Linked DNA regions of Homo sapiens: regions 1, 2, 3, 4 and 5 are each linked to region 6. The links come from fine-mapping of genetic effects on gene expression. A gene starts in region 6. Each other region holds a variant in brackets. All regions are shown on one strand. Distances are from middle to middle.

The links. PIP is the estimated chance that this variant, and not a neighbour inherited with it, causes the effect. A credible set is the group of variants that fine-mapping cannot tell apart.
Region 1: its variant is the best candidate, but not a certain one, in a credible set for the expression of CLIC5 in whole blood (INTERVAL, PIP 0.80).
Region 2: its variant is the best candidate, but not a certain one, in a credible set for the expression of CLIC5 in whole blood (INTERVAL, PIP 0.75).
Region 3: its variant is the best candidate, but not a certain one, in a credible set for the expression of CLIC5 in lung (TOPMed, PIP 0.53).
Region 4: its variant is the best candidate, but not a certain one, in a credible set for the expression of CLIC5 in tibial nerve (GTEx, PIP 0.90).
Region 5: its variant is the best candidate, but not a certain one, in a credible set for the expression of CLIC5 in skeletal muscle (FUSION, PIP 0.83).

The regions. Positions count from the first base shown.
Region 1 is chr6:46,048,279-46,053,353 of GRCh38, reverse strand. It overlaps a transcript of CLIC5 not described here. Among named protein-coding and RNA genes, the nearest start is that of CLIC5, 35 kb to the right of the region's middle. The variant A/G (reference allele first, on the strand shown) is at 1,975.
Region 2 is chr6:45,893,474-45,898,548 of GRCh38, reverse strand. CLIC5 (chloride intracellular channel 5) reads left to right here. Exons shown (of 6, transcript NM_016929.5): 6 at 1-93. Among named protein-coding and RNA genes, the nearest start is that of CLIC5, 120 kb to the left of the region's middle. The variant T/C (reference allele first, on the strand shown) is at 2,460.
Region 3 is chr6:45,957,649-45,962,723 of GRCh38, reverse strand. All of the region lies in intron 1 of CLIC5 (chloride intracellular channel 5), which reads left to right. Among named protein-coding and RNA genes, the nearest start is that of CLIC5, 56 kb to the left of the region's middle. RefSeq lists an enhancer at 1,585-2,084. The variant G/A (reference allele first, on the strand shown) is at 2,061.
Region 4 is chr6:45,949,006-45,954,080 of GRCh38, reverse strand. CLIC5 (chloride intracellular channel 5) reads left to right here. Exons shown (of 6, transcript NM_016929.5): 3 at 4,700-4,825. Among named protein-coding and RNA genes, the nearest start is that of CLIC5, 64 kb to the left of the region's middle. The variant C/T (reference allele first, on the strand shown) is at 2,303.
Region 5 is chr6:45,902,842-45,907,916 of GRCh38, reverse strand. It overlaps CLIC5 (chloride intracellular channel 5), which reads left to right. Exons shown (of 6, transcript NM_016929.5): 6 at 4,662-5,075. The coding sequence ends at 4,829. Among named protein-coding and RNA genes, the nearest start is that of CLIC5, 110 kb to the left of the region's middle. The variant AG/G (reference allele first, on the strand shown) is at 2,436.
Region 6 is chr6:46,013,073-46,018,147 of GRCh38, reverse strand. It overlaps CLIC5 (chloride intracellular channel 5), which reads left to right and starts at 2,288. Exons shown (of 6, transcript NM_016929.5): 1 at 2,288-2,668. The coding sequence starts at 2,606. RefSeq lists enhancers at 1,486-2,330, 2,331-3,175 and a silencer at 2,588-2,637.

The DNA.
Region 1 (5,075 bases), 35 kb before region 6:
TCTGTTTCCTTATTCTCCTGTTTTCTTTATATCACTGGCATTGTGCTTTATTTATTGGTTGTCCATCTGCCCTACCAGCCTGTCACCCAGCTCCAGGGGCAGGACTTTGCCTGTTTGCGGTCTGTCACGGAATGATTATACTGAATGCATATGTGTATCAGGCCCTGCCCTCCAGTGTCTCTCCTCTCTCTCTCTCTGCAACTCCTATTAGTTGGAGGTTGACCCTTCTGTATTTGGCCTCTGTCTCTAGTCATTTCTCTCATATTTTTATTTGCTTTTTTGCTCAATGATTTCAGAGGCTTTCCTTATTTCTAGCTCTTCTATTAAATTTTTCATTTTTAGCAGTTATGTTCTTAATTTTTAATAACTCTGATCTTATTCTCTGATTGTTCCTTTTCCAAAGTGTCCTGTACTACATCATAAGGGCCGAGTGGCAGGGGAGGCCAAGTCAATCATCATTCCTTTGGGGTGATCAGGGAATGGATCTCCAGATGCCAGAAAGAGAAAGTCTTTACCCTGGCACCTCCACACCGAGACTGGAAGCACAAGCTCTCCCCACACCCTCAAATGGCTGCCTGTGGAGGGAACTTTCCATGTAGAGGCCACAGGTAAAAGGCTCCCAGTGCACTGCACAGAGCTGGGATGTGGGAGTTGGCTGCTGTCTGGCAAAGTTGTTCTAGGATAGAATTTCACTGACTCCCTCCAATGGAGTCCCATATCATACCTCCCACCCACTGTGGGATGGGCCAACTCCAAGCTGACAGCTTCTCTAGGGTCCTGGAAAAGAACAGGGCCCCCACCTCCTCTGTACCTACCTTAGGGTTTATTCTGAGCTATAATATTTTCTGTACTCTATTATCTCTCAACATTTTCCTACCTATCTTCTCTCTTCCAGAAGTTTGTCAACAACCCTTGTCATTGGTGACACTGTCTTATTTTCTTAACTGTTGTAAGATTGTTCCTTTTCCTACTTCTCTACTCTTATTTCAGCAGGATCTCAGGATAATCTGCAGACAGTAATATTTCAATCATTGTGCATGAGCAAAGGGTTCTAAATACAGCTTGGGAGCTGGTGAATGTGAAGTGTGTAAACAGGACCCTTTACTGCAAGGCTTTTCAGCACTTCAATTTGCAAACAAGAATAGGTCCTGCAAATCTCAAAGAGGGGGTGTGGTATGAAGCATTTCTCAATTATTTGACCACAAGAATTTCTTCTTTTTTTTTTTTTCAGGGAAATCTCATCATTTTTGTGTTCCAAGAAATATACTATGGAAAATACTAGACTAATTTATCAGTGTCATGCTAGCCCTGGGAGTGCAAAACAGTAGACATTAACAATGTTTGCTGAATGCAGGTGCAAAAGGAGGCTGAGTCAATGGGTCCTAAATACCACTCACACCCAAGTAACAGATTTACTTTGTGGAGATGATGGTTTATCTCAGATAGTCAGTGCAGTGGAAAGAACACCCAGGCTGAATTCAGACTAACATAATAGCTGGGTGCCATTAGGCAAATTGAATTATTTGAGCCCCAATTTCCATATCTGTGATATGGGAATAATATCTGCTTTTTTTATTTTATGAGGTAGTTTTGAGCATCAAAAGATAAAATATATGAGATGGTATTTTATAAAATGTAAAGCACTAAACAAATACAAGGAATTATTATTATTGTGAAACTCAGTTGCCATGTCACAGCAGTTAGAACGTGAAAGGGAAAAGACATTTGAGCATTCTCTAACCATATCATGTGGCTGGTTGCCCAGTCATCCTAAACTTAGAGATTGCCCCAACTGCAGAATCACAGGGAAAAACACAGAAAAAAAAGGAGAGAAACCCTAACCGTCTTATGGATTGCACGTAGAGCTAAATCAAGACTTTATCCTCACTTTACAAGTGAAGACTTGAGCTAGAGAAACAAGAGACTCAGCAATCTTTATCTGGAAAGGACCTTAGATGTCATTTGAACCAACTT[A/G]CTTGTTTTAGATGCATAGAAACTGGCCCAGAGAGGTTAAGTAATTTGCCCCCCATCACACTGAGATAATTGTGCTAGCAAGCAGGTCTCCAAGTTCCTGGCCAACATAACTCAACTCAACAAATGTTTATGGAGAGTGGAGTACCATTGCCCCAAGGGCCAGGGCATACACAAGTGGGAGCCTCAATTTCTATCCTGAAGGAGCTTACAAGTGCAAGAGAGGAAAGAGTGACAGTAAACACTAGAGAAGGGCTGATAATTTAAGACTGGGTTGTTCAGTTATGTTCTAAGAGTTCAGAGATGGGGGCCACTGTTGATGACTAAGGCAGACAGAAAAATCTTTTTGTAGTTGGTATTCTCCATTTTCAGAACTTTTGACTCACACACAGTGGCTCATGCCCATAGTCCCAGCTACTCTGGAGGCTGAGGCAGGAGGATTTCTTGAGGCTAGAAGTTTGAGAAATTCTGTCCTTTCACCTCAAAGATTCCATGGGGAGGAATGCACACACACACACACACACACACATACACACACACTTTATACCTTAAATACAACCTGCCATAAATCTCAAGGGTAGTTTCTTGACCTTAAAATCGCCAAGAAAAAAAGAGGACCAGTAGAGTCCATTATACCTGAAAAGTATTTGCTACCACCTAAGCCATCTCAAAAGTGTCTCAGAGCCCATGATTCTTTTGTGGCAAAGAAGACAAAGCACCCATTTCCCTGGCAACAACTTTTATTTAGTATTCAAATAACATCCCTGTGTTTGGAAGGCCAGTGCATCTTTTAGTGTTTTAATTTCTAAAGTTTATAGAGCAGCAAATTGGTTTGGCATCTGTTAGTAACTCTGCCCTAAGATGGGATGATTCAAACTTGGCAACTAGCAAGCACTGTCTCCCATTAGTAGCAGTAATAATGAAATGATGTGGTTGAACATCTCAGGATGCCAAGTTTACTTTGTGCTTGGACAAATGGTATATTGTGTTGGTTTTCATTTCTTAAAAGGTCCTTATAAAAGCCTCCCCTTTTTATTTATGTTAGAAAACTCAATTTAACCAAATAAGCAGAACCAGAGTGCAGGGCATCAACAGCGTCAGAGACTGGGTGTACTACGTGCAGGAATCTGTCCACAGCTGCAGGTACAGTTACTTTCAACTGAACAGATTAACTTTGGTTGCTCTGCATAGGGATGTGGTCCAGGCACTTACAGGGACACAGAGAAACATGGAGAAGGATCAATGGACAAGTGAATAAACAGCCCAGTGACATCCATTGGGCTTTAAAATGGTTTGCTGCTGAGGAGATATATTGGCAATTGGTGTGATGGGACCTCCTAAGGCCAGAGCTTATTTCTGAACATATATCCCACAGAGCACACATTCCTTGAGATACTCCACACAAAAAAATGGCTAAAGAAACTTGAGAAACAGTCCCTAATTCTCCTCTTGCAGATTCACAGTACACATTAGCTTATAAAAGGAGCAGAGACATCAGTCAAAAAACCTTGAATCTTGTTTAACTCAGCATTTCCCATTTTGGAAACAATTAACTATAACTTACCAAACATTGGAATTGCTATGTCTCGAGCTTTCTGCCTGAGGCTATTTACATAGCCTGTCAAAAGCTGATGGCAAAGAAGTGAAAATTGTAGTCTATATGACATATCTGTTTTTGTCCCTGAGTTAATTTACCCAACCCAATGTTTTGTTTCTTGTTTATGTTAGTTCTGCCTATTCCCACAGCCAGGTTGACTGCTCTTGCCTGGATCTGAAGGTTATATTGAAATGGGGACTCATACCTGGGTCTGTTGGTCTCCAAAGCCTGTATTTTTAACTATGTGATACTCTGCTTAATACTGAGGGCGTTTAAATTCCCCTCAATGGTTGGGTACTTTCATTGTCTCCTATATCAGTCAACTATTCCTATCTGCTAGAAATGAAAAAAGAAAAGAGAGGAAGGGGAGAAGGGAGACAGGGAGAGGGATTAATTTCTTGTAGAAGCATGGGTAAAACTTAATCACAGGGACATTTTTGAGCATTTGTAACTTTATCACAAGTTCTTGCTGTTTTCACAAGTTCCTGGGAGATGTTATGCTTGGAGGTAGGTTAAAAATATTATTTAAAGGATGAAACCTATTCATCTTCCCTGGATAGGGAAAGAATCCCAAAGATGATTATGAAAGAGATAGTCTAGGATTACTCCCTACAAGTTTTCCTGTGGAGCAGCCCCTAAACTGCTCTTCTCAACCTTCATTTGCAAAGCAAAACAGCATTAGTGTAATCAGTCCCCTATCTTTCCCAAATCTGCCTTACCCTAGTAGTTGCAGGGGATATTCAAACAGGAGGCCTGGAGAAAGTGCTTTTGAACAGCAAGCTCCTTTGTTTTCCTCCCTTGCCTCTGACCACTCTGGCTTTTAAATTCTCAAATTTGAATTCTCAAATTAGATTTTGTCTGACCTTTAGCATTGCTTGGCAACTATGAAGAGTCCATTTTCCCTACTGTGGCCACGGTCTGAACCACGCATTCTGATGCTAAGCCACTGCATGTGCCTGACTGACATGACACTGCAGGCTCTTGGCCCCCATTCTTCCCCCGGGAGACAAGTGGCACCTGATGGCATTGCCAACTTCTCACTGGTTAAACTATATTGAATTGTGTCCATTGCCAGCCTCAACTCCCTCCCAGGCAAGGAGGAAGGCCAGGGCTCTGATCAGGGCTGAGGTTTCAGGAGCTGGACTAGTAATGGAGCTGGGGTTGATGAGGAGGTGGGAGGTGGGGTGACTGCTGGGTGGAGCAAAGCAAGCAGCAGCCAAGGTGAGTTTTGAGAAAAGGAGGCCATTTACCACTGGCAAAGAGACTGGAAAGAAAGATGCCTGCTGTGTATGAGGCCAAAGAGCAAGCAGAGAGAGTATTTGAAACAGGGAGGATGGAAAAGAGTCAAGCCTGAAAATCTTCCCATGCTAAGACTGGGTTAGGAGCAGAGGCAGCCCTAGAATTTGTGAACCTGAAGTTCATGCTTTTAAGGAGCCCTCCTTCAGAAACAAAAATGAAATTCCAACTACAAAATATAATATGGGGCTGGGAGCAGTGGCTCATGCCT
Region 2 (5,075 bases), 120 kb after region 6:
TTTCCTCATGAATCTGAACCAATTACCAATTTGTGTTCCAGTCTTGATTGGTATTGACTGATTCAAATAAAGTTGGTTTATTTTCAAATATTACAAAAGTGGTCATCTAACTTCTTATTTGAGGTGGGGATTTCCTGTGCTGTTTTAGATGACAAGTATGAAGTACCTTTTTTTTTTCCACATAAAGGTTAATTTATTTTCCCATTATAAAGGAAAATGTTCATTCTTTTTAAAAATCAAAGCATGCCTGGATAATTTTTGTATTTTAGTAGAGATGGGGGTGTCACCATGTTGGCCAGGCTGGCCTCGAACTCCTGACCTCAAGTGATTCGACTGTAATCCCAGCTACTTTGGAGGCTGAGGCAGGAGAATTGCTTGAACCTGGGAGGTGGAGGCTGCAGTGAGCTGAGATTGCACCACTGCACTCCAGCCTGAGTGACACCGACAGAGCGAGACTCCCTCTCAAACAAAGCAAAACAAAACAAAAAAATCAAAAGCAAATGGAAAAGAGGAAGAAGAAAACGAAAAGCACAAAGTTTGTGAACCAGCCATCCTAAAACCAATTTTTTTTTTTTTGCAAGACTAAATAAACATTCTTTCATAATACCTGGGCTAGGTAAAAAATTATACTGATGCTCTTTCAGTGTCTCATATTTCCCATCTGCATTGTCATCCATGGAGGTAGATCAACAGTGACAGTCCAGGTATGATTTAAAGAATTCCTTAAAATATCATTCTTCTTGTGCCCAGAGCTCTCTGTTGGCTCTCAGTGGCTTGCGTTCCTAGGCTGAAATCCCTACTCTCAACACCACATCACTGACTCTGGGTTCAGGTTCCCAGAGTCCTTAGTAAGCTTTACCTGAAGCCAATGTGACGTCTGATGAAGACTTCTATGAGCATTCACATTGCTAAAGGGTAGTCATAACAGCACTTCATTACCTTGGAAGAAATGAAACAGCAGACCCAGGGGTGGATCTTGATGGGAGGGGCAGCTAGGGTCTCAGGACAGGTGCAGTAGATGCAGCTGGTGGTCACCCCACCATCCCGACTCCCATCTTCCACAGGCAGAGCTCTGATTGGGTCAGGAGTCCACCACCTCCCTCCTCCCTACTCCCCCACCCTACACACACACTCCCACCCTCAGATGACTGGAGCGAGGGTGATTTCATCCCCAGTTCCAAGAGTAAAGCACAAATGGTCTGGGCCATCCTGCTGGCTGTGGTTGGTTTCAAAGTGGGCTCCTGACCAAGTTCCGCCCAGTATTGTGAAGGCAGATTTACTCAGGAACTTCTGAGAAATATCCCCTTGTTGTTAAGAAAGTGACTCCTTAGGTCACTGCTTCTGATTGTGGGTATGAGGCCTGGAAGTGCTGCCGTCCTCTGGGGACCCTGAGAGGGTAGCAGCCTCAGGGCAAAGGCAACATGCTGCAAAACGCAGCAAGAGACAGAGACAGAACCTGGGTCCTTGATGTGACCACAGAGTTGCTAAATCAACAAACCCTGAAACTGGTCCTAACTCTGGATTTCCTGTTCTGTAATTCATCCCAGATTGTTTGATGGTGATTTTCTTTTACCCCACGAGTGGCCCAAGGCATTCTAAGTGGTATATTAGCCAAGTTGGTTGTGGTGGTTGTTTTTTTAATAGCCAGTTAGATCATTAGACTGCTCACCCAGGAGGCGTCCCAGGCTTCCACTGTGTGAATGTAGGGCATCTGCTCTCCAGGCTGACCAAGAGCTGGGAGCATGGGAGACATCATCTCTCTGTGTCTTGGTTTCCTTAACGGTTCTGTGAAGAAACCAAGGGGCACAGGATGGCAGTGACTGTGCCTAGTATTGAGGAAGACTAAGTCCTGTTCCAGAGAAGCTTCCAGAGAAGTGACATTGTAAATGAGAGTATCTCATTACACTCAAAGTTGTTGTGACCTATGCTGCTTTTATTTATTTCTTTTGTTTTTATGTCTAGTAGCTAACCTACCCAGAGCCCCCAGTAAGTTTTACCTTGTGGGAAAAGGCATGGAGTATTAGACTGGAGAGGTAGGAAGTCAGGACTGAAAACAAAGAAACGAGAATTTGACTCTTAGGTCCATCATTAAATTACCATGTGCCCTTGAGCAAGGCTCCTTTCTGGGCCTCAGTTTCCCGAAGGGAGTTATGAAGGCTCCTTGTCTATGAGATTATACAATCTCTGATGAAGAGTACTTTTTGGCAATAAAGGGTTATTTTAAGTGGAATGACATTTCAACCAATTGGAACATTCAATCTATTGGAAGGTCTCTCTGTGCTCTTCTTTAATGGAAAGAAGCCAATAACCAGAAAATACATGGCCATCAGGTATTCGTCTATGTGAATTTTTTCTTTTAAAGTAAATTTCAGAGTATGACTTGGAGTCGATTTACATTATATAGGTCTCCTATCCTTCTACTTAGATTCACTGAAATCTACATCCACGTGCAATAAACA[T/C]GACCCTGAGGCCCTGCAATTGGGTTCATTCAGCTGCATTTATTTATGCAAAGAGTAAAGCATACTCAAAATTTGGGAAGATTTTTAATTTAAAAATGTGGAAATGAGAAAAACAAGTTTCAATGTAATCCTCCTTTAAGTAGAATATCTCAATGCCCCAAACACTCTTATTTCCAAATCCATATAGGCCTTGGAGTCTAGACCGCTGAGATGCATAATACAAATGCCATAATAGAGACCAGTTAAAACCCAGTACTATTCCGTCTGTGGAGCAGTGCTTGGTTTCACACCATTTTCAGTCTGTCTAGAATTGTTTCCTGTGTGTTAGTCACTGTTACCACCCTGTCCCCAATTACAAACTAAGCTCCTTTAAGAGATAGAGCGTAGGTTATTCAATTTTTGTGCCGTGCCTCACCTTGTCTAGGACGCAGCAAATATTAGATGCTCAAAAGTATTTATTAGTGGTTGACTGGAGAGATCATGAGACACTATTGCAGACTTCTGGGTTCACCTTGGATCTCACTCTTCATTTCCTTCTAGTCCCTGACACCCACTGTACCATAATTCTGAAAATAGAGTGAAAACAGAGAGCTAAGGAGAGAAATAGGTGTCTGTGTTAGTTAAATATGCTTCCAAGGTGCTTCTGAAGAACGAATCCTTCTAAAACAGTGTGTACAGCATTTATCTGTCTGGCTGAAAAAATGAAAAGCTACCTAAGCTCATTTTATCACATGGTTTTGATGAGTTAATAATTTAGTCAGTTGTCCAAATTAGCCACAAACTTGTGCCTAGATTAGGTGTTATATTTAGAAACAGGTTAGAAGCTTTGAGGGGAGGGTGATTCTGGGTGCTATAATCCTAGAATTATCTGACTAAATAAGGTTTAAACGAATGCATCTTTTTTCCGCATATAGGTTCATTAGGGAAAATTTTGAAAATACAGATAAGAAATAAAAAATAAATTATACTGGTAATCCTTCTGCCCACAGATAACCACCTTTAATTAGTAAATAATTATTTTCCCAGACTTTTTCTAGTGAGATAGGAATATAAATATGAATACTTTTTTTTTAACAAAAAGAGAACTGAACCTAACGTACCTTCCTGTCCCCATGATAAACAATTCTGGGGCCAAATATATTTTTCTGTTTCTATGCCAAACAATACTAGGACCAGACAAAAACAACTTGCTACTTTCTCCAGAAAATATTTGCTTACTTATCAAGACCTACAGCTTGCTCGACAATAATTGTCCAAGACCTCACCTTACAGTGCGCATGGATTCAAAGCTTTTACATTATAAACTTTGCCCAATCCCAGCCCGTTTTCTGCCTTTCAAGACCCACCTTATAATCATTTGGCCCTAAATGGCCCTAAGACCCTGTAAATATCCTTCCCTTCTGATGTGCTACTAAGACTCTGTCAAGAAGATGTTCTTCTTTGTTGAAATAAATCTGATAAACTTAGCTTTTCTTGGTCAATAAGTTTTTCTAGCTGTCTTTTTTGAGAATTATCATTAGCCAACACTCTATACAGTTTGTTAATGGGATTTTTTTCATGCATACATCATGAATATCTTTCCATGCCCTTTTTCATCTATAACTTTATTCTTGTGTATTACAATACATTTAACCAGTTTTCTTTATTCAGCCCTTAAGGTCACTCTAATTTTTTACTCAATTGATGCTATAATGAAGTACCAATAAGCTAGCTTCTTCATTATGTCTATTTTTCCCTTAGAATAGATTTCTGGAAGTGGAATTTCTAAGTCAAAAGGCGCACCTATTGTAAGGCTCTTGAGATAGATTGCTAAATTTACCTCCAGATTGTTCCAACTTACTCTCTCACCAGCAGACTATGAGTGCTAATTTTCTCACATCATCACCAGTATTGAGATGCATTATTTTTCAATTCTACTCAAATTGATAAGTGAAATATACCTCATGGTTGTCTCTTTATTTAACCATGTGTTGAAGATCTTTCCCAAGGATACAATTCCACTTTCTTTACTATCTTTAGTTTCTCTCTCTCTTAGACACAAGTGTGCTAGTTTCATCCCCTGTAACTTAGCTACGTGTCCACGAGACTGCCACACCATGGGATGAGTTGAGTATGAACTGGTTCTTGTGGCAGTTGTTGCTCCCTTTTGGCATATTTTGAAGTAGATGGCAAAACATAGGTTCTTTCTTTAATTAAAACAAGAAAACTAGAAAAAGAAAAATTTCTTTTTTTAGTCCACATAAGGATTACCATTTTAGGTCAAACCCAGTGTATACCACCCCCAATATAGTCTCAAGGGTACTAGGAACATATTATGGAAAGGGATGTATATGTGTTGTGGGGTAGGGAGTTCTCTCTGACTTACAGTTTTGGAAACATTAGTATTGGACCTGTGAAGAGCTATTTTCTACCAAGAAATTCCACCAGAAATTCTCACAATTCATTGAGCTCTTGGCCTTCAGCATAAGATCAATCAGGCTGCCATTAGGGACGACGAGTGTGGATGAGAGAAGAGAAACCTAGAGAGCTGGCAGGCCCTGCTCTGGGATTTGTGGAAGTGTGATATAGGAAAGTGAAGCAAGAGAACCTGAAATCAGAGTCTATATTTCTAGAAAA
Region 3 (5,075 bases), 55 kb after region 6:
AGTTCTTTTGGGAGGGGACATGTACACAACTATATTCAATTGTTTACAAAACCATCTGGTGAGCTAAGGTGCAGATGACAGCTACTGAATTAATAGGTTACCTGAATCAAGTAAAATATTTAAATATGCCAGGTGTAATGGTTAACTTTATATATCAACTTGGCTGGGCCATAGTGCCCAGATATTGACCAGACATTACTCTGGATGCTTCTGTGAAGGTGCTTTTTTTTTTTTTTTTTTGGATGACATTAACATTTAAATTGGTGAACTTTGAGTAAAGCAGATTGCCCTTTATAGTGTGGGTAGGCCTCATAGAAAAAAAGACTGACCCCCTCCTCTGAAGAAATGGGAATTCTGCCAGCAGGCTGCCTTTGGACTCGAACTGCGGCTCTTCCCCGGGGCTTCAGCCTGCTGGCCTACCCTGCAGATTCTGAACACACCAAGCCTCCACAACTGTGTGAGCCAGTTCCTTAAAATAAATCTCTCTCTCTTCACACCCCAACTGATATGTATTATATATATGTGTATATATATATACACACACATATATATAATATTATGTTATTATAATGTATTATATAAAAATAAGATGTGTATACGTTTCTCCATATATAGTAGATATAACAGGATGTGTGTGTGTGTGTGTGTGTGTGTGTGTGTATGTACATATATGTGTATGTATATATAAATACACACACACACACACATACATGTTGTGCTGGTTCTGTCTCTGGAGAACTCTGACCAATATACCTAGAATTCTTCATATCACATTGCACAGGTAGTGGTCTACATAGAGCTAATTAAGCCCATACATTAAACTTTAGATAAATGTTGAGGATCTCTGTAGCCTCAAATGTATACCTGTTACCTGTTTCTTGAATGAAAAATGCCTGGGTGACCCCAGTGAATTAGGCCTTTTGTGGCTTCTGAGAAAGGAAATGTTGATTTCTTCAAGGGTAGACCTCTCTGTCCTCATGTGGACCACGTACCACCAAGTCCCATCCCTGCTAATTGAAGTCTTGCCAACCAAATTATTGGAAGGATAGACTGTTTGGTATTAAAAAAAAAATAGTCACAACTAGAAATGTTGTCTGACTTACACTAACTAATTAAAAAATGGGCAGCTGGAAATATTATTATAAAGAAAGCTTCTTTGTCTAAACAGTTTAAATGAGCTATTATGTTTAAAGAAAGTCCTTTTCATGTGGCCTTTGCCACTTTGTCACTCTTTTCTAGAGGACAGCAGCCAGTGTGGTCTGCTCAGAACTGAGAGTCAGGAGTTAGAGAGACCTGATTCTGCTATGGGAACCAGCTGTGCTACCATGGGCAATTCATTTAACCTTTCTGGGTCTATTTCTCTACCAGTAAAAAGAAAGAACTGGAGTATAGCATTCCTGAGGTCAGTTACAGCCCTACTGTTGCTTAATTTTTATCTGTACACTTAACAAAATTATTTAATCACTTGAGTCCTCAGGGACAAGTTTCATGGGCGACAGCAACAAAAAGTGGAAATGTGACGTAAGTGGTGACTTAATTATCTTTCTTGAGAAAACTGAGGTTTCTTTCCTAATACTTCATCCAGGACTTAACCTTGCCAGGTTTTTAAAGAAGTCAAAGGTCACAAAAATCTTACATTTTGAAATAACAGACATTTAAGCATCTGATGTAGTCTGGGTCCAATCAGGAGTGAGAAACTACATGGTAGCTTAAACAGGAGAAATTCAACATGAAGTTTTAACTAAGATAAAAGAGTAACCATGACATATAAGGAAACTCTCTATGGTACCCTAGGGCTGAGGGAGAGGAGCCAGGGAAGGACAAACTTAGAAGTGGTTTGGAACCTGGCACAGAAACTCACTGGTTTGATCAGGCCAGAGCTGGTCTGGAGTCGCTGAGCAAGCAATAGCCCACTCCCCAGAGTTCAGGCAGGGAGCAGGCAATCAGCATCGGTACAGCATGCAGCAGGATCTAGGTGTTAGTGGAGAAGAAGGCCTTCAGGACACGTGGGGCTTGCAAAGGGGGTGACCAAGCTGTGTGGACACACTGGCCATAGGCCG[G/A]CTGGACATAGGCTTAATGGGGACTTTGGTTTCTGTGTCAAGAGTGCTGGGAAGGTTATTGCCAGGCTGAGGCTATGAGGTGCCAGGGGGGTTGCATGCTGAGCCTATAGCTGGGGTGGCTCCACTGCGTGCCCTCACAGCTACACTGCCCACCCCCAGCCCACACCACAGCCAGCAAGAAAGCCTCTTCCTCCTGCAGTGCCCCTCTAGTTCTCCCTGGTGAGAAAGCCTAACTTTGTGCTCACTTTAAAGGAGAAATGTTTAAAGAAATTCCCCCTGTTCTCACAGAGCATATATTCAAGGGTGCATTGGAGCTGAAAGGCAATAAATTGATAACTGACTCATCTATCAAGCTTCAATGTCATCTGGTCACTTTCTATAATTCCTTCTTGGATCCTCTCTGAATGATTCCTCCCACTTCTGGACTTGGGTACCCGCGAGTGACTTTTGGCCAATTATCAGCTTCCCCTTCATTATCTGGAAACCAAGTATTACATATCTGGTGTGTTCATGGAATGTCTTAAAACAATGGTTCTCCAATGTGGTTCATGGACTTCTGGGGTCGCTAAGAGGCTTTCAGGGGTTTTAAGAGGTCACAACTATTTTTAGAGTTATATCAATATGGTATGCTTCTCTCTCTGGGATTGGTATTTCGTGGGTAAGTTTACTAGTGTTTCAGCACAAATCCAAGCAGTGGTATAAGTGTGACTAGCCAGTCATGCATGTGCAGAAAAAAAAAATAGCCTCAATTATGAATGTCCTTGATGAAGCATTAAAAATTATATAATGTGATTAAATCTCAACCTTTGCATACATGTCTTCTAAACATTCTGGTTGATGAAATGGGAAATGCACATAAGCTCTTTGGCTGCATTCCAAAGTCTGATGGTTGTGGAAGGAAAAGCACTTGTATGATTGAGTTGCCAGCTGAACCAGCTGCCTCCCTCACTAAGCAGTTTTTACCTGAAAGAGCAACTGGCTGACACACCATGCTTACTCAGACTTAATATTTGTCAGTATTTGCTTCAGCCTGGGAGGCAGAAGTTGCAATAAGCTGAGATCGCGCCACTGCACTCCAGCCTGGATGACAGAGCAAGACTCTGTTTCAAAAACAACAACAACAACAACAACAACAACAACAACAAAAGCCCCATATACCCCAACTAAATACCAAGAGATTAAATGTGGAAGCCGACTTCTACTAAGTCAGATGTTAAAGATTTTGTAAAAATATAAAACATTGCCACTTTTACTAAATTTCTTGTTTTTAGAAAATATAGTTATTTTGTGTTAAGATGTTGTGTATGTTAATAGACACATTTATTATAGCATTTTTCTAAATATTTAAATGTTTTTCAGCTTTAACTTACAACACGGTAAATATCAATAACTATCATCCACATAAACAAAACCTTTCTGGGATCCTCAACAATCTTTAAAAGCATAAAAGAGTTCTAAGACTAAAAAGTTTGAGAACCGCGGTCTTAAATAAATCTCCATTTTCCACTTGAATTTACAAAATTGCAGGAAGTTATAGGTGCAGTGGTTGAGGCCAAGAGGAGGTAACTTATCTAAGGTCATTCACATAGTGAAGTAGAGGCAGAGATGGATCTAGAACCACAGTCTCCGGCTAGTGTGCTACATAACTCAGGGTAACCATGTATGTATGTATGTAGTATGTATGTATGTATGTATGTAGTATGTATGCATGTATTTTAGGATGATTTTCAGAATGCCAGTGAGAGAATTTTGAGATCCTCAAGCCACAAAAAGGGAGGGACATCACCCTCCCCTCAGCATGCATCCATTTAAATAGGCACTGAATATAAAGTAAGTTTCAGGTGCCTGTGCTTGTTGCTGCTGAAGACAAAGTAAATAAAACTTCAACTATGTTTTGAGGGAGCCAAGCTCATCATATATGGAGAGAGCTCACATGAAAGGCAATATATAATAGCATATAATATGAAGTATCCAGCATATAACAGATGAAGTGCAATCATACAGCCTATATAATTACATTATGCTACTACTACTGGTATCACCATATGGAATATTATATGTGGCATGATATTTTATAATAAGTTGTTATATACACTGTATCTAGGGAACAGGAAGTACTTTAGGATTATAGCTGGCAATCATGTTCAAAGCAGAATCATGAGCTTGGGAAGTTTGCCATTAGCTGTTTATATATATATATATATATATATATATATATATATATATATATATATATATATAATTGTCTTTTTGACACTTCCCTGATTGCATCAGTTTCCAAGAAATTGCTATACATAGTATAGCTGATAGCAGCAGAAACGGATTCTCTCACAGTTCTGGAGGCCAGAAGTTCAAAATCAAGGTGTGGGCAGAGCCAGGCTCTACTTGTCTCTTCTAGCTTTTGGTGTCTGCCACCAATCCTTGGCGTTCGTTGGCTTGTAGATACATCACTTCAATCATTGCCTTCATCTTCACATGACTTTGTCCTCTGCATGTCTGTGCCGAAATTTCCCTCTTCTTGTAAGGACATCAGTCATGTTTAGAGCCCATTCTAATCCAATATGACCTCATCTTCAAGTTGATTCCACCTGCAAGGACCCTGTTTCCCAATAAGGTCCCATGCACACATTCCAGGGGGACATGAATTTGGGGGAACATGATTCAACCTAGGACACTGTTTTTGTGCCGGTCCCTGGCCCCCAGTGCTCAAAATCTCTCTGGAACAAAGTACACCTGGGTTTTCCCTCACACTTTTCAGGATGTGGGGCCCAACTGAGCCCCACCTGGTTCTTCTCTGTTGATGTTTCAGATGGTCGTCACAGATCACGATATTTAACCCATGAGTTTAACAAACAATTTCTTAGGGCCGCAAGGCTGTTGGGATTTGAAGGGGAATAGAAGAAGCTGAAAGAGGGACACCCAGACAGTGAAAGTAAATGGTAGCATCCTCGCATATTTCTATTGGTCTTTGACAATTTTTGTTTACTAAACCCAGAATCATAGTTTAATACAAGA
Region 4 (5,075 bases), 64 kb after region 6:
GCTGGTCTTGAACTCCTGACCTTGTGATCCACCCACCTCGACCTCCCAAAGTGCTGGGATTACAGACGTGAGCCACTGCTCCTGGTCTTTTTCTTCTATTTTCTAGGCACTAAACACTTCCTGCTCCTTTCTATTGCTGCCTTCATTGTTGATCAGTAGCCAAGTCTAGAGCATTCTCCTATTGCACTCTCTCTTCCTCCAAACTCTCTTTTTCATTCTCAAAGCCTACAACTGGTTCAAGTCTCACCACTGCCACCCTGAGAGTCTCATTGTTCTTCAAACTGGTCTTCATCTTTCCAGGTTCACACATTCTCTTTTTCTCTCTCTCTGACCCATCCTTTATGTGATTCTAAGGTTATTATTCCTAAAATAATGCTTTAATCAGGCCACTTTCATGCACAGGAAACCTTTGATGTTTCCCATTGTCCATGGACTTGATGCATCCGAAGCCCCGATTTGTCTTTTCCTTCATTCTTCCCAACACTCTTTCCCAACACTTCTCACCGTGACCTGTCTACTCTGTCAGGCTGGCCTGCCTTCTGCTGTTCTTCTTCCTTTGAGCCTCCATCCCTTGGCAGAACTGCATCCTCTGTCTAAAACAGGCCCTCTCTTCCTTCTTGTCCCTGGCCCCAGGCTCAGCTTCAGCCCATCCCCTCTGTAAGGCCTACTCATACCCATCCCACCACACTCATACAAGCACACCTGTCAACCCAACCTCCCTCCAGACTCACCCAGCACCTGTTGTCTATGTTGCCTTGTGTCGTGATTTAGTGTTTCATCAAGTTCTGAGGTCTGCACCCCTAATGCTTTACAACTGGTAAATGCTTTCTCATTAAAAAAAAATCACATAATGTATAATCCTGTGAAGGAGGTCTTACTTCTCCGTGTTATTTGAGAAATAACTGAGACAGATATATATGAGACTCGCCCAAGATGCCAACTAGAAATTAGAGGGGCTAAACGCCATCTGCTTGGTTCAAATACTATGCTCTTCATAATACCTCAGTTATGAAGTTTGTTTCATCTTTCAAATGAGACCTTCAATCCCTCAAGGACAGACTGGAATCGTGTTTTAAGTTTGTTTGTATCCTCCATAGAAACTAGTTTTTCACAGGTCCTCAAATACTATCTGTCAAATAAATGAACTTGCATCCACTATGCAATTAATGTCTGTGATAACTAAAGAGAGCAGCAGACTTATGAAAAAGCAGCTTCCTTCAGTGCAGAATTGGAGGTGTTTGGATTACCATGTGTGAGAGAGGACTTGTATGTTTGCTGGAGAAGAGAGTGGGAGAGGGAACCACCCCTGCCCGCGTGCTTCAGATGGTTTGGTTCCTCCTTCACATGATCACACCTGGTCCAGCCAACACCCCTTTGACGTAGACCAGGCATGTAGCACCACTCCATTTTTACAGATAAGGAAACTTTCTTACTGCCCCCTCTACCCATGAACACACACATTAATTTCTAAGAAAACTGATTTATTTTCCTGGCACTACACTTTAGTGACTGAATAATCTTGAACTTTTCAGAGCCTCAGTTTCCTCATCTGTACAATGGAGACAGTGTCTTCTTAATCAATAGGATTATTGTGAGAATTTATCGAGGCAGGCCATGTAAAACATTTGCAATTGGTCCTGTACCTGACTCATAGCAAGAACTCGTTGCATGTTGGTTATTCTTAGAATTATCACTGGGTTCATGGAGCTGGCAATCCAGTAAGGAAAAGAAGACCGATCCTCATTACATAATTCATAAATCATACCTGGCAATACGTCATCCAATGCTAATGATATAGTCTCAACTATAAATACTGAAGCAGGGTCAACAAAGACAGAGGGCTGCAACTCTAGCTAAGCGTCGGTGGCCATAGGCAGTACTTCCCAAGGGCGTCTGACTCCAGTGGCCACAATTCTCCAGAATCCCAGGAAAAAACCCACCACCACCACCATCACCACCACCACACATTCCTGTATCTGTAAGCCACAGAGAGGTGACTGAGAGCACACACGTTGCTGCCTTGTGTCAGCTCTAAAAAACAGGAGCAAATAAAGAATGTCCTTTCATTGTCTAAAATGAGGGACATGCACAAAGTAAATAAAGGGACTAAGTAAATTAGATTTTAAAAATACTTTCCGTCTCAGTTGTCTGAGTTCCAAGTGCCTCAGAATGCAGCTGGAGAGTGTGTGTGTTTGGGGAGGGACATGGGAGTAGCACAGTAATTGAAATTCTTCTCTTCCCCTCCCAAACTGATTACGCCAGGAATTTGTTTCATTACAGACTCCTCTACTCCCACTGTTTA[C/T]TTTTTTTACAGTTTCTGCGTTTAATGTTTTCCACTCCCGACTCCCACAAGAAATGTGGCATTCTCAGAGAGAGCATTTGGGGTGAATCCCAGCACCGTCTTGGAAGTCGCCACCATTTTCCCTCCTCTTCCCTAAACATTTTTAGTGTAACCCTCCCCTTTCCCATTTTCCCCAATCTGCCAAACCTTCTTCCCCCTCATTTTGCTCCATTCTTGCTCTTGCATTCTGACCAGCTGGCGCAGACACAGAAGCACACTCCTGGATATTAACAGGACCTAGCCGTGTCAAACACAAGGCCACTTTCCTTTCCACTGCACTTGGCCTTCCTGCAGGTAGTCAGTGTGCTCCCCAGTGCACGCCAGAAATGCCACTTAGCACTGCTGTGGGCTAAGTGCAGGAAGTTCAATTAATTGTTCAGTTAATTAATTGTTCATTCATTCAATTGGGACTGCGTTCCAGAATTTCACCCACTTCTCCATCATCTAGGCCTTTCTTTCAGGATAATTTAGGACTCTTGGGTCTCCTCTTTCCCAGGGGGGAGAAATGCACTGTTGCTTTGGTTATCTTGGATTTCTTTAAGTGTCTGACCCAGAAACTAACAGGCACACCAAAGAGCTTTCTGTCTTCTTAGGGAGCAAATTTGCTGCCTATTACATATATATGTATGTGTTACCTAAAAGATCCTACTGGGCCCAGCAAAGTTTGCTATAAGAAGAAATAACTTTCATAAATCAAGTGATCTATTTGAATCCCATCACAAAGCAGAAGTTGCATTTACTTAGAAAATAAATTGTTTTTAACTTAAGATAACATTTAAGTAACCCCATAATTTTTAAAAATAGGCACAATTTCTGACTCCTAGGAGATTTTTGATTTATGTATGTTGAACAGAATTTTTAAAATTTAAAGAAAAATAACTTCTTTCTAGTAAATCTAGTAAATGTTCTCAAAATAAGTCTTATTTTGAGAACAGTAGATGCTTGAATTAAGTTAAAATACTGTGAAAGGTAGACTATGGTGGAGCATGAATACTGTAGCAGTGGAGTTGCCTACTGGTTCTCCCCACATTTAACTGAAAGCCGAAAGCCTTCATAACTGGATTGAAGTTTTTACCAATTTGAGACCAACATTTGATTTCTACTTTTGCAGCTAAAATCACTCATTTTTAAATTTAAAATGTATGAGTTTTTATTGCTGTTGTTGTTTTGAGACCGAGTCTCACTCTGTCCCCCAGACTGGAGGGCAGTGGTGCCATCAACGGCTCACAACTGCCTCGAACTCCTGGGCTCAAGCAATCTTCCTGCTTCAGTCTTCCAAGTAGCTGGGACTGCAAGCACATGCCTCCATGCCCAGCAAATTTTTGTTTGTTTTTTTTTTTTGTAAAGATGGGGGTCTTGCTATGTTGCCCAGGCTGGTCTCGAACTCCTGGGCTCAAGTGATCCTCCCACCTCACCCTCCCAAAGTGGTGGGATTACAGGCATGAGCCACTGTAGCTGAATCAAAAATGCATGCTTTATTCATGTAGCCATTAAAAATATGTATCTACTGAGGGCCTCCTATATGCCAGGCATGGTTCTGGGTCCTTTCCCTCATGGAGCTTGAATCGTAAGGCTTTCTCTCAGGTATCTTCTTACTCACCAGTAGGAGGTTCTTGGTTCAGAATCCTTGGTAATAGCCTACCTGGTGTTTGTGGAGCAATAATCTTAGCAATAAGAAGACTTTTGAAAACATCTTCATTTAATAGTTTTGTTTTCAATCTAATAGTTTGTTTATTTTCCTGGCTACCCAAAGACCATATCAGGGGCTGTTTATAACTCAAAAAGAGTATTCTGTTGAGTGTGACAAAAGGCTGACCAATGTTAGACATTAGTTATTAGATATTAAAATATAAGTTACACACAATAGAAGCATCTAACTTGAACAAATGGCCCAAACTCCCAATTTTTTGTATCTGGAGATATTTATTAGGAGAAAAGTATGATCTAATTCATTAATTTTTAAAGTATGGAATTATGTGTAGCGCATTTTTGTTAGGCAGATTGGTGAAAGAGCTTTTAAAAGCAAAACCCCACCTCTCCCCTGGGTAATTAAAGCTTGGATCTGACTTAGATAGTCACCTGGATTCTCTCCATTTTTTCAATTCTTTCATTTTTTCAACTCCTTCATCTTGACTTGTTCCTCTCTCACTGACTCCACTGGACACACTTCCTGGGTCACACCACATTCTTTCAGAACTTTCTCCAACCTCCCCTGCCCTATACTGCATACCATAAATCTGTTTCACCTGACAGGCATGTTGGATAGCACAGGGCATCTAAGTTACAATCAATCTTAGGTTTCCCAGAACAGGAAGCACCCTGCTGTAAGCCAACACCTGAATCTTGCTCTCTCTACAGAAAGCCAGCTGACCTGCACAACCTAGCCCCCGGCACGCACCCGCCCTTCCTGACCTTCAACGGGGACGTGAAGACAGACGTCAATAAGATCGAGGAGTTCCTGGAGGAGACCTTGACCCCTGAAAAGTAAGGATCTGTTTCTTTCTGGGGCTGTTGAATGGGAAGGGTTCATGCTGGATCTATAAAGTCCTGGTGTTAACTTCGGGCAGATGCATTTCCAAAGGAACCTCACCAGTCCAGAGAACAGGACCCTTTCTTCAAAGAGAGAGCCTAGGACCCCCAAAGGGCTGCCAATCTCAAAACCACTCCACAAAATCCACTCAAGAGTAGATATGGCCTATGAACAAGAGCCAGTCACTCCTACCTACACAGAGTG
Region 5 (5,075 bases), 110 kb after region 6:
GGGCAAGAGAAAGAAATAAAAGGCCTACAAGTAGGAAAAGAAGAAGTTAAATTCTCTCTTTACTGATTATGATTCTATTTCTTGAAAACCCTACAGACTTCACCAAAAGGCTCCTGGAACTGATCAACAACTTCAGTAAAGGTTCAGTATACAAAGTCAATATTCCAAGATTGAATTGGGAAGAAATTGAAACCCTGAACATACTAATTGAGTTATGAAATTGAATCAGTAATTTAAAAAAACCTACCAACCAGTAAAAGCCCCAGACTAGGTGGATTCACAGCTGAATTTTACCTGACATAAAAAGAAGAACCAGTACCAATCGTACTTAAACTATTCCAAAATATCAAGGAAGGACTCCTTCCTAACTCATTCTATGAAGCTAGCACCACCCTGATACCAAAACCTGACAAAGACACAATGAAAAAAGAAAACTTCAAGCCAATATCCCTGATGAACATAGACACAAAAAATTCACAACAAAATACTAGCAAACCAAATCCAGCAGCACATCAAATAGTTAATTCACATTGATCAAATAGGCTTCTTCTTAGGATGCATGGTTGGTTCAACATACACAAATCAATAAATGTTATTCGCCACATAAACAGAATTAAAAACAAAAATGAAATGATCATCTCAATAGACACAGAAAACCTTTGGATAAAATTCAACATCCCTTCATGACAAAAACCTTCAATAAATTAGGCATTAAAGGAACACCCCTCAAAATAATAAGAGCCATCTATCTATGACAAATCTGCAGCCAACATCTTACTGAATGGGCAAAAACTGGGATAATTCCCCTTGAAAACTGCAACAAGACAAGGATGCCCACTCTCACCACTCCTATTCAATGTAGTAGTGGAAGTCCTTGCCAGAGCAATCAGGCAAGATAAAGAAATAAAAGGCATACAAATAGGAAAAGAAGAAGTCACATTCTCTCTCTTTACTGGTGATGTGATTCTATTCCTCAAAAACCCTAAAGACTTCACCAGAAGGCTTCTGGAACTGATAAACAACTTCAGTAAAGTCTCAGTATAAAAAGTCAATGTGGCCGGGCACAGTGGCTCATGCCTGTAATCCCAGCACTTTGGGAGGCTGAGGCAGGCGGATCGACTGAGGTCGGGAGTTCGAGACCAGCCTGACCAACATGGAGAAACTCTGTCTCTACTAAAAACACAAAATTAGCTGGGCATGGTGGCGCATGCCTGTAATCCCAGCTACTCAGGAGGTTGAGGCAGGAGAATCGCTTGAATCCAGGAAGCAGAGGTTGCAGTGAGCAGAGATTGCACCATTGCACTCCAGCCTGGGCAACAAGAGCGAAACTCCATCTCAAAAAAAAAAAAAAAGTCAATGTACAAAAATCAGTAGCATTTCTGTATGCTAACAATATTAAAGTTGAGAGCCAAATCAAGAACATACTCCAATTTATAATAGCTGCAAAAATAAAATAAAATAAAATATCTAGGACTACATCTAACCAGGGAGTTAAAATCTCTACAAGGGGAGCTATAAAACACTACTTAAGGAAATTGCAGCTGACACAAACAAATGGAAAAACATTCCATGCTCATAAATTGGAAGAAATAATATTGATAAAATGGCCATACTGTCCAAAGCAATATGCAGATTCAATGCCATTCCTATCAATCTACCAATGTCATTTTTCACATAACTAGAAAAAACTATTCTAAAAATTCGTGTGGAACCAAAAATGAGCCGGAATAGCCAAAGCCACCCTACGCAAAAAGAACAAAGCTGGAGGTGTCACATTACCTGACTTCAAACTGCACTATAAGGCTACAGTAACCAAAACAACATGGTACTTGTACAAAAACAGACACATAGATGAATGGAACAGAAAAGAGAACCCAGAAATAAAGCCACACACCTACGGTCATCTGATCTTCCACAAAATTGACAAAAATAAGCAATGGGGAAATGACTTCCTATTCAATAAATGGTTTTGGAATAGCTGACTATCCCTATGCAGAAGAATGAAATTGGACCCCTACCTTTCATCATATACAAAAAGTAACTCAATATGGATTAAAGATTTACCTCAACTTGTAAGAATCTTAGAAGAAAACCAGGAAACATTCTGTACATCAGTTTTGGGAAGTAATTTATGATGAAGTTACAAAAGCAATTGCAACAAAAATAAAAATTGACAAGTGGGACTTAATTATACTAAAGAGCTTCTGCACATAGAAACTATCAACAGAGTGAACAGTTAGCCCACAGAATGGGAGGAAGTATTTGCAAACTATGCATCTGACAAAGGTCTAATATCCAGAATCTATAAGGAACTTAAACAATTGAATAAGAAAAAAACAAATAATACCATTAAAAAGTGGGCAAAAGACATGAACAGACACTTCTCAAAAAAAGACATAATAAGTGGCCAACAAACATTAAAAAAAAAAAAAAAA[AG/G]CTCAGTATCACCAGTCACCAGAGAAACGCAAATTAAAAGCACAAGGAGACACCTCCCTCACACCAGTCAGGATGGCTATTGTGAAAAAGTCAAAAAGCAACAGATGTTGGTTAGTCTGTGGAGAAAAGGGAACACTTATACAGTGTTAATGGGAATGTAAATTAGTTCAGTCACTCTGGAGATTTCTCAAAGAACTAAAAGCAGAACTATCATTTGACCAAGCAATCCCATTACTGGTTATATATCCAAAGGAAAATAAACTGTTTTACCAAAAAAATTTCATATGCATTCATATATTTATGACAGCTCTCTTCACAATAGCAAAGACATGAAATCAACCTGGGTGCCCATCAACAGTGTACTGAATAAACAAAACATGGTACATATACATCATGGAATACTACATAGCCATGTAAAGAAACAAAGTCATGTCCTTTTTAGCAACATGGATGCAGCTGGAGGCCATTATCCTAAGCAAACTAATGCAAGAACAGAAAACATGAAACTACATGTTCTCACTTATAAGTAGGAGCTAAGCAATAGGTACTCACGGACATAAAGATGGCAACAATAGACACTGGGGACTACTTGGCAGAGGGATGGAGGGGGCAAGTGTAGAAAAACTATGCTCATTATTTAGGTGACAGGACCAATCATACCCCAAACCTCAGCATCATGCGTTATACCCAGGTAACAAGCCTGCACATGTACCCCCTTGTATCCCCCCAAAAAAAAGAGGGAAGGAAGGAAGAGAAGGAGAGAGAGAGTGAGAGAAAGAGAGAGGAAGGATGGAAGGAAGGAAGGAAGGAAGGGAGTAGGGAGGGAAGGAAAGGGACAGAAAAGAGGGAGGGAGGGGAGTCAGAAGTGATACTACTCTCCTGTTACCCCTACCCTAGCCTAGCCTGGAAGGGCTAGAGGAGGACCAGCTAATGTGCAGGCCCTAGTGCACAGTGAAAACAGGGGGGCCCTGTTTAAAAATTATTAAGAATTTCCACACATTGACCCCAGAGCATTAAATCAACAGCAGGGCTCTTCTGAGTGCAAGGTGAGACTGCACAGGTCACAGGTCCATGAAGCTGCCGCAGCTAGAGAGACCTCATTAAAGAAACCATCCTGCTGTCCCCATTAAGAAAATGCATGCAAATGGGTACAAGCTAGGTCTCAATGAATTATAATAATACTTGATGTTTATTGAGTATTTACTATTTGCCAGGCACTCCTCTAAGCATTTGATGTGTATTAACTAATTTATTACTCCAAAGTAGGTTTTATTATTATATCCATTTTAGAGATAAAGAAATTGGAGCTCAGAAAGGTTAAGTAACCTGCCCAATGTCACACAGCTGCTAAGTGGAGCCATGATTGCAAATCCAGTCAGTTGGTATCCAGAGCCCATGCTTTTAATCACTTTGCTCTTGTTTCTCTCAACATAAATACCACTTCTCCAGAACTCTCCAGTCCACATCCCCCCTGACTGTGGCAAACCAGGGCGAGAACAGAAATCAGTATTTGCTTACTTTTATGTCATAGTCTAAACCTACATATACATTCCAATATCTAACTTGCTTTTCATGGTTTTTTTTCCCTTCTATAAATAAAGAAGGGAAAAACTGGCCTGTGTAAAACAAAGTGAATAAGAGAAAGAAGAAAAGAAAAATTGTTGGTAATTCTATCAATCAGACATAACCACTGGTAATATATAGGTATATAGACATCTAGCCATCATACATGTTTCTCCAAATGCATTATACTTGAACTTTAAATGTAATAGTCTATCTTGGAGAGTTTTCCAGATCACTAGATTTTCTTAGCAGCATCATTTTTAATGTCCCTCCACTATGACATTTTATTTGTGTAAGATAATGTATGTATTCATATATTGTTGGACTTTGGCGCTGTGCACCATTTTTGTTATTCAAAATAGCTCTGGGATCATAATTGTGTAGGTAAATCTTTATATCCATCCATGATTATTTCCTGAGAAAAAATTCCTAGAATTTGACACACTAGGTCAAAGGGCAAATTATGTTTACTTAAGAAATTAAATTAAAACAAAACAAAAAGAAGACAGCACTGCCACCTTGCATTTCAAACATATCACTGATGGCCCGTGGTGATGCACGGAGGTTTCCTGCAGTGCACACACACTGGGACGGCCACTAACACTTTCTAATGATTTGTTTCATGCCTTCACACCACCTCTGTCCTGCCATCTCTGTTTTAGATTGTGGCCAAGAAATACCGCAACTATGATATCCCGGCTGAGATGACAGGCCTGTGGCGGTACCTCAAGAACGCCTATGCCCGTGATGAGTTCACCAACACCTGTGCAGCTGACAGTGAGATCGAGTTGGCCTACGCTGATGTCGCCAAACGCCTCAGCCGATCCTGAGCACAGCCATTTTGCCCCATCCCCGCTGCAGAAGGACTCAACCACTCCCCTAAGACTCCAGCTTCATAGACTCCTCTGTATCACTGCCTTGAGGCGCACTTTTTATAATCAAGCCTCATCTTGCTGGTATCATGGGAACTCCAGCCTGCTATCTTTCATGAAGGTCAGCACCATCCCTGGCCTCCTCACATAGGAATCTAGCAGAAATGATAGACACAGTCCACCTTTCGGCCGGCCAGCCTGATC
Region 6 (5,075 bases):
AGTGCAGGGATGTTCTGAGTCTGTGCATCATGCAGCGAAGGCACCAGTCTCCCTCTGTAACCTTGGTCCTTCCCTAAAGTATGTAGTCATTGGTGCAGAATGTACAGCTGTGAAGGTGACTGTTTCTCTAAAGGCTTTGGTGATGTAAGCCTGAAGCCAAGCAGGAGGAAAGCAATTAAACATCACCTTGATTAAGTTATAATGTACCAAGAGAGTTGCACGTTGGGCTTGGTGACTGCTTTCTTCAGGAAGGAGGAATTTGCACTGAGAGTCTGTGGGGACACAGCCTGCCATAAAGGGTAGTGAGGACATCTTTCCCTTTTCTTTGCCTATCAGATGCCTGACCTTTCAGGAAGGTTCAGCTAAAGTGCCTTTTGCTCCATGAAGCCTTTTCCTCTCCTCACCCCAACCATGGTAAATAGTATCTTTACGTGACAGCTTGTATAGCTCCTTCATCTTCCCAATTCATGTGGCAGCCTTAGTTTTCATTTCATGTAACTATTATTCTGAAAGGGATTTTGATCTCTGTTAAGACCGTTAAAACCATGCCTTTGTTTCCTCAAAGTGTGCACTTCCATAGTGTGCACTAAGAAAAGCAGTTTGTAGAGCAGTTGAGAGGACAGGCTCAAGTCTGTCTGGGTTTAAATCCTGACTTCACCATTTCCTAGCTGAATGACTAGGGATAAGTTACTTAAATACTTCATGTCTCAGTTTCCCCACTTGTAAAATTGGGATCATTATACTATTTGTAAATATTATACAAGTTCACACATGTAAAGTGCTCAACATTTTTGCCTAGCACATAATAAGTATTATTACTTATTTTTTTATTAAGCGATAAATTTTTTAATAAAGCTATTAAACAAATACATGTTTTTAGTAAGGAAGGACATAGCACAAACAGGATTAATTAAAGAGAAGGCAAAGAAGACAAAGAGAATTCCACCAGATTCTGGTGCAAAACATTCAATAATTATTTTTTAAAGAACTGAAGGGTGGGAATGTCTGTTGGTGCAACCACTTTAGAAAACCTATGGCAGTGTTTACACAAGGAGAGCATTCTTATACACTACAACTCAGCAAGTCCACTCCTAAGTATACATCCAAGAGAAAAGTGTCTGTGAATCCAACCAAAAGATGTTTGATAGAGAGAATGTTCGTGACAGAGTAGTCATGATAGTCACCTGCACAAATGTCCATTGACAGAAGAATGAATAAGTAAGTGTGTCGGTGAAAATGGATGATACACAACTACACATAGCACAATGGATGAATCTCACAAACATAGTAATGAGCGAAAGAAGCCAGACACCAACATTCCAGGCAAAAAGATCCTATGCTGCTACAAGCCAGAATAATGGTTACCCTGGGACAGTGGAGACGGGAGAAAAGATGTGGAGAGGAGAGAGCAGGAGGAGCTTCTAGGGCTGTGGCTAACATTTTATTCTTCATCTGGCGCTCGTTACATGGGTGGGTTGGATTGTGAAAATTCATTGAGGCATACACCTAAGATATGTGCATCTTTTCTGTGTTTGCATCCTACTTCACTAAAACAACCAGAAGAGAACGGGAATGAAGTAAGATCAGAAAATAAAGGAAGAAATAGAAAGAAAATGAAAGAAGGGAGAAGAAAAATAAACAAACCCAGAAGGCTGAAAGGCATGGAAGCCGCACCTGACCGGGTTGACTCACCCCTCTGCCCCAGGAGCCACCCCTGCCCTGCCCTGCCCGTCCCCAGCACCCTACTCTCCTTTTGCTTAGCCCAAGGATGGCAAATGCCCCTTTTGGTGGGGGTTCTGAGCATCACTAAGACAGGAAGGGCTTTCCAAGTGGGTAAGGCTGGTAGTGGAGTAACTCGGAGGAGCTGACGCTTTATTAAAGAAACAGAAGACTTGAGAGCCATCTCCTCTCTTCCTTCCCCTTCCCCTTTCCCCTTCCTCTTCCCCTTCCCCTTTCCCCTTCCTCTTCCCCTTCCCCTTTCCCCTTCCTCTTCCCCTTCCCCTTTCCCCTTCCTCTTCCCCTTCCCCTTTCCCCTTCCTCTTCCCCTTCCCCTTCTCCTCGACTCTTTCTGCCTTCGCCTCATTATCCGCCCCCAGGACATCCTCTTGGCCTTGGTGGCTTTGCCAGGACCAGCTCTGTCTCCGCCTCCTGCCCTGCGGGGTCTTGGGGCGGGGGGCCGTGGCCCGGCCCAGGCCCGAGCTGCCGGGGTGTCCCCGCCGCGTCCCCGCCCGGCTGACCCCGCCCTGCAGCCGCCGGCTATTTTGGGCGCGTTGGCGGCGGCGGGATCGCTGACAGTCGCGGATCCTGTGACACCTCCGGGCAGCCCGGCACTTGTTGCTCCCACGACCTGTTGTCATTCCCTTAACCCGGCTTTCCCCGTGGCCCCCCGCCTCCTCCCGGCTTCGCTCCTTTTCATGTGAGCATCTGGGACACTGATCTCTCAGACCCCGCTGCTCGGGCTGGAGAATAGATGGTTTTGTGAAAAATTAAACACCGCCCTGAAGAGGAGCCCCGCTGGGCAGCGGCAGGAGCGCAGAGTGCTGGCCCAGGTGCTGCAGAGGTGGCGCCTCCCCGGCCCGGGACGGTAGCCCCGGGCGCCAACGGCATGACAGACTCGGCGACAGCTAACGGGGACGACAGGGACCCCGAGATCGAGCTCTTTGTGAAGGTAGGTCGGGGTCCAGTCTCCCGCCGCACCTGCCGCGCCTCCCGCCGGGCTCACCCACCAGGGCTCGGGGTGCGCTGGACTCCGGACCCTCCCAGGAGGGCGGCGCGGAGCCCTGTGCTCCCCCGTGGCCTTTCCGCAGGCCAGCGCCCCGCTGCGAGGCTCCTGGGCGGAATGGAGGAAGGCAGGTTCCGGCAGGTGGCCGTCTTCTCGGAGAGTTGATCCGCAGTTTGTCCACCCCCGTCCCCGCCTCCGCTGTCACCGCTGCGAGTCCGAGTCCAGAGCCCAGCCCGGACGCGATTCAGGCTGGTCCTGAAAGACGTCTCCAGGTGTCGGGATGCGGCAGAAACCTGGCTGGACCCGTGAACCTTTCCTTTAAAACGGGAGGAGGGGGAGGAATGGGAGAGAAACGTTATTGACACAATGATCTTTGGCAAAGCGAAAATGACATTTCTTAAAATTCTCTTTCTCTCTTTCGCTCAGAGATCCTAAAATAAAAGCCAAGGAGACAAAAGTGTTTTCTTGCTTGGTGACTTGCAAAGCAGAAAACAAGCACTCCATTCTCCGACGTTATTATTTTTGTCATAATCATGATTTTTCAAGGCAGTATCAAGGAAATGTTAGGCGTTTGGTAGTAGGGAGAGCCTCCCGTTCAACCTGATGCAGACAGGGATGAAGGAGCACAGTGCAAATTAAATGAAGTCACCTTGCTCCTTGGACAGAAACTGCCTAATGTCAGAGCTGCTGTACTTTATTTGCAACCTGTAGGAGGAAGGATGGAGGCGAGGCTGCGGCGGCGTTTCCCGGTCCGCCGGTGTAAGGAGAAAGAAACATTTGATCAGCCCTTGGTGCCGACGCTGCAGAAGTAGGGAAACCTGAGGCTGCGGGAGAGTAGCCTCCAGGGCTGAGCAGAAACAGTCGCCAGGACTTGGGGGAGGGGAAGTCGGGGACTGCCTGGGCGCCAAGACCTTTCACAAAGGGGGAAAACTCTCTCAGTGCAAAGTTTCCCTAGAAATATGCAGATCGCTGAGAAGGGAAGAGTCACTGGTGCCTGTCAGGGGCCTCCTGGCAGAATTTAAAAGGCATAAATATTCCCTGGAATTGGGAAAATGTTATTTTGCCCAAAAGATCCTTCTCTACAAGCTAATTAAATAGATGTTTGCAAAAAGTATGAGATCTACATAAACCTTGATAACAATCTGTGGTCTTTGGTACTTTCTGACTCTTAAAATGTGACTTACTTTACACTTGGTACGTGATCTGTCTCCGTTGTCCCAGCCTACCACAAAGGTTTGTTAAATTTCTTCTGCTGGGTTTTACATTCTTTGTGTTTATTTTTCAAGCTTACACCTGACATTTAGTGACACTTGCTTTCTTCAGCCTGTTCTCTTCCCACTGTGGCCCCTGTGTGCTCCTTTGGTTTCTGGGACTCCCCCCACCCCCACCCCAGGCTGGATTTCCAGGTCCTTTGGCAGACCCAGGTAATAAAGGAGGTCATTTCTCGTCTGATGCTGGGTAGTGTTGGACCTTAGGGCAGCAAGGGGGTGTTCTGAACCCCAGCATCCAGGCCTGGGCCCTAGGGGTGAATAGGGAGAGCTTTAACAAAGCGATGAGTCTTGCTGCTCTCCTTGAAGAAAGCGATTCTAGGACTTACTCAGATTCCTTGAGAGTGGTAGTTTCAAGGTGTCAAGTTTCTGAAAGATATTTGAAACACAAATAGGTTCTTTAGAACCAAAGGAGCCCTTTGCCCCACTCCTAGGTGTGGAGACCGATTCTACCTGCACCTTTGGAATTTTCTTGTTGGCAGTGTTGGAGAGTCTCTCCATTTATATAAAAACCTTACTGCACAATTTGCAGCGTTCCCCAAATAATTCTAAAATGACTGTGTTGTCATTTGTTTTTTCCCTAAAGGAAATCAATGAGAGCCAGGCAGGCCTTCATGGCTAGCTCAAAAACCAGATTGATGGGGAGATCAAAACATCAGGTATGAAAGTTGTTTTGACTCCTCCCTCAACCCCATCTTTTTGAGCTTCAGGTTAGCAGTTCTCATTTACAAGTAAATGGGACAAGTAAAGGCTAGAAATATTGTGAAATAAAGATGCTGCCCAGGCCTTACTTGAACTGTGTCATTTGAGGGAAGCAATATCCTTGTTGACAGAATCACACTTTTCCAAAGTTTGGAGTTTCTCTGAGGTACATGATTCCCCATAAAAAGAAAGGCCTTCTTGTTGATGGTGTCAGGTAACTGAAGCTCTTTCTGCAGGGCAGGGTGGGTTGGTTTCTATGAAGACTTCCAAGAAGGATGGGTCCCACCCAGTTATAGTCATGACTTGGTCATTTTCAACACCCCCTTGGAAGGACCTCCCAACCTCTTGTTTCCACTGGGTGTACCACTCTAAATCACAGTCAC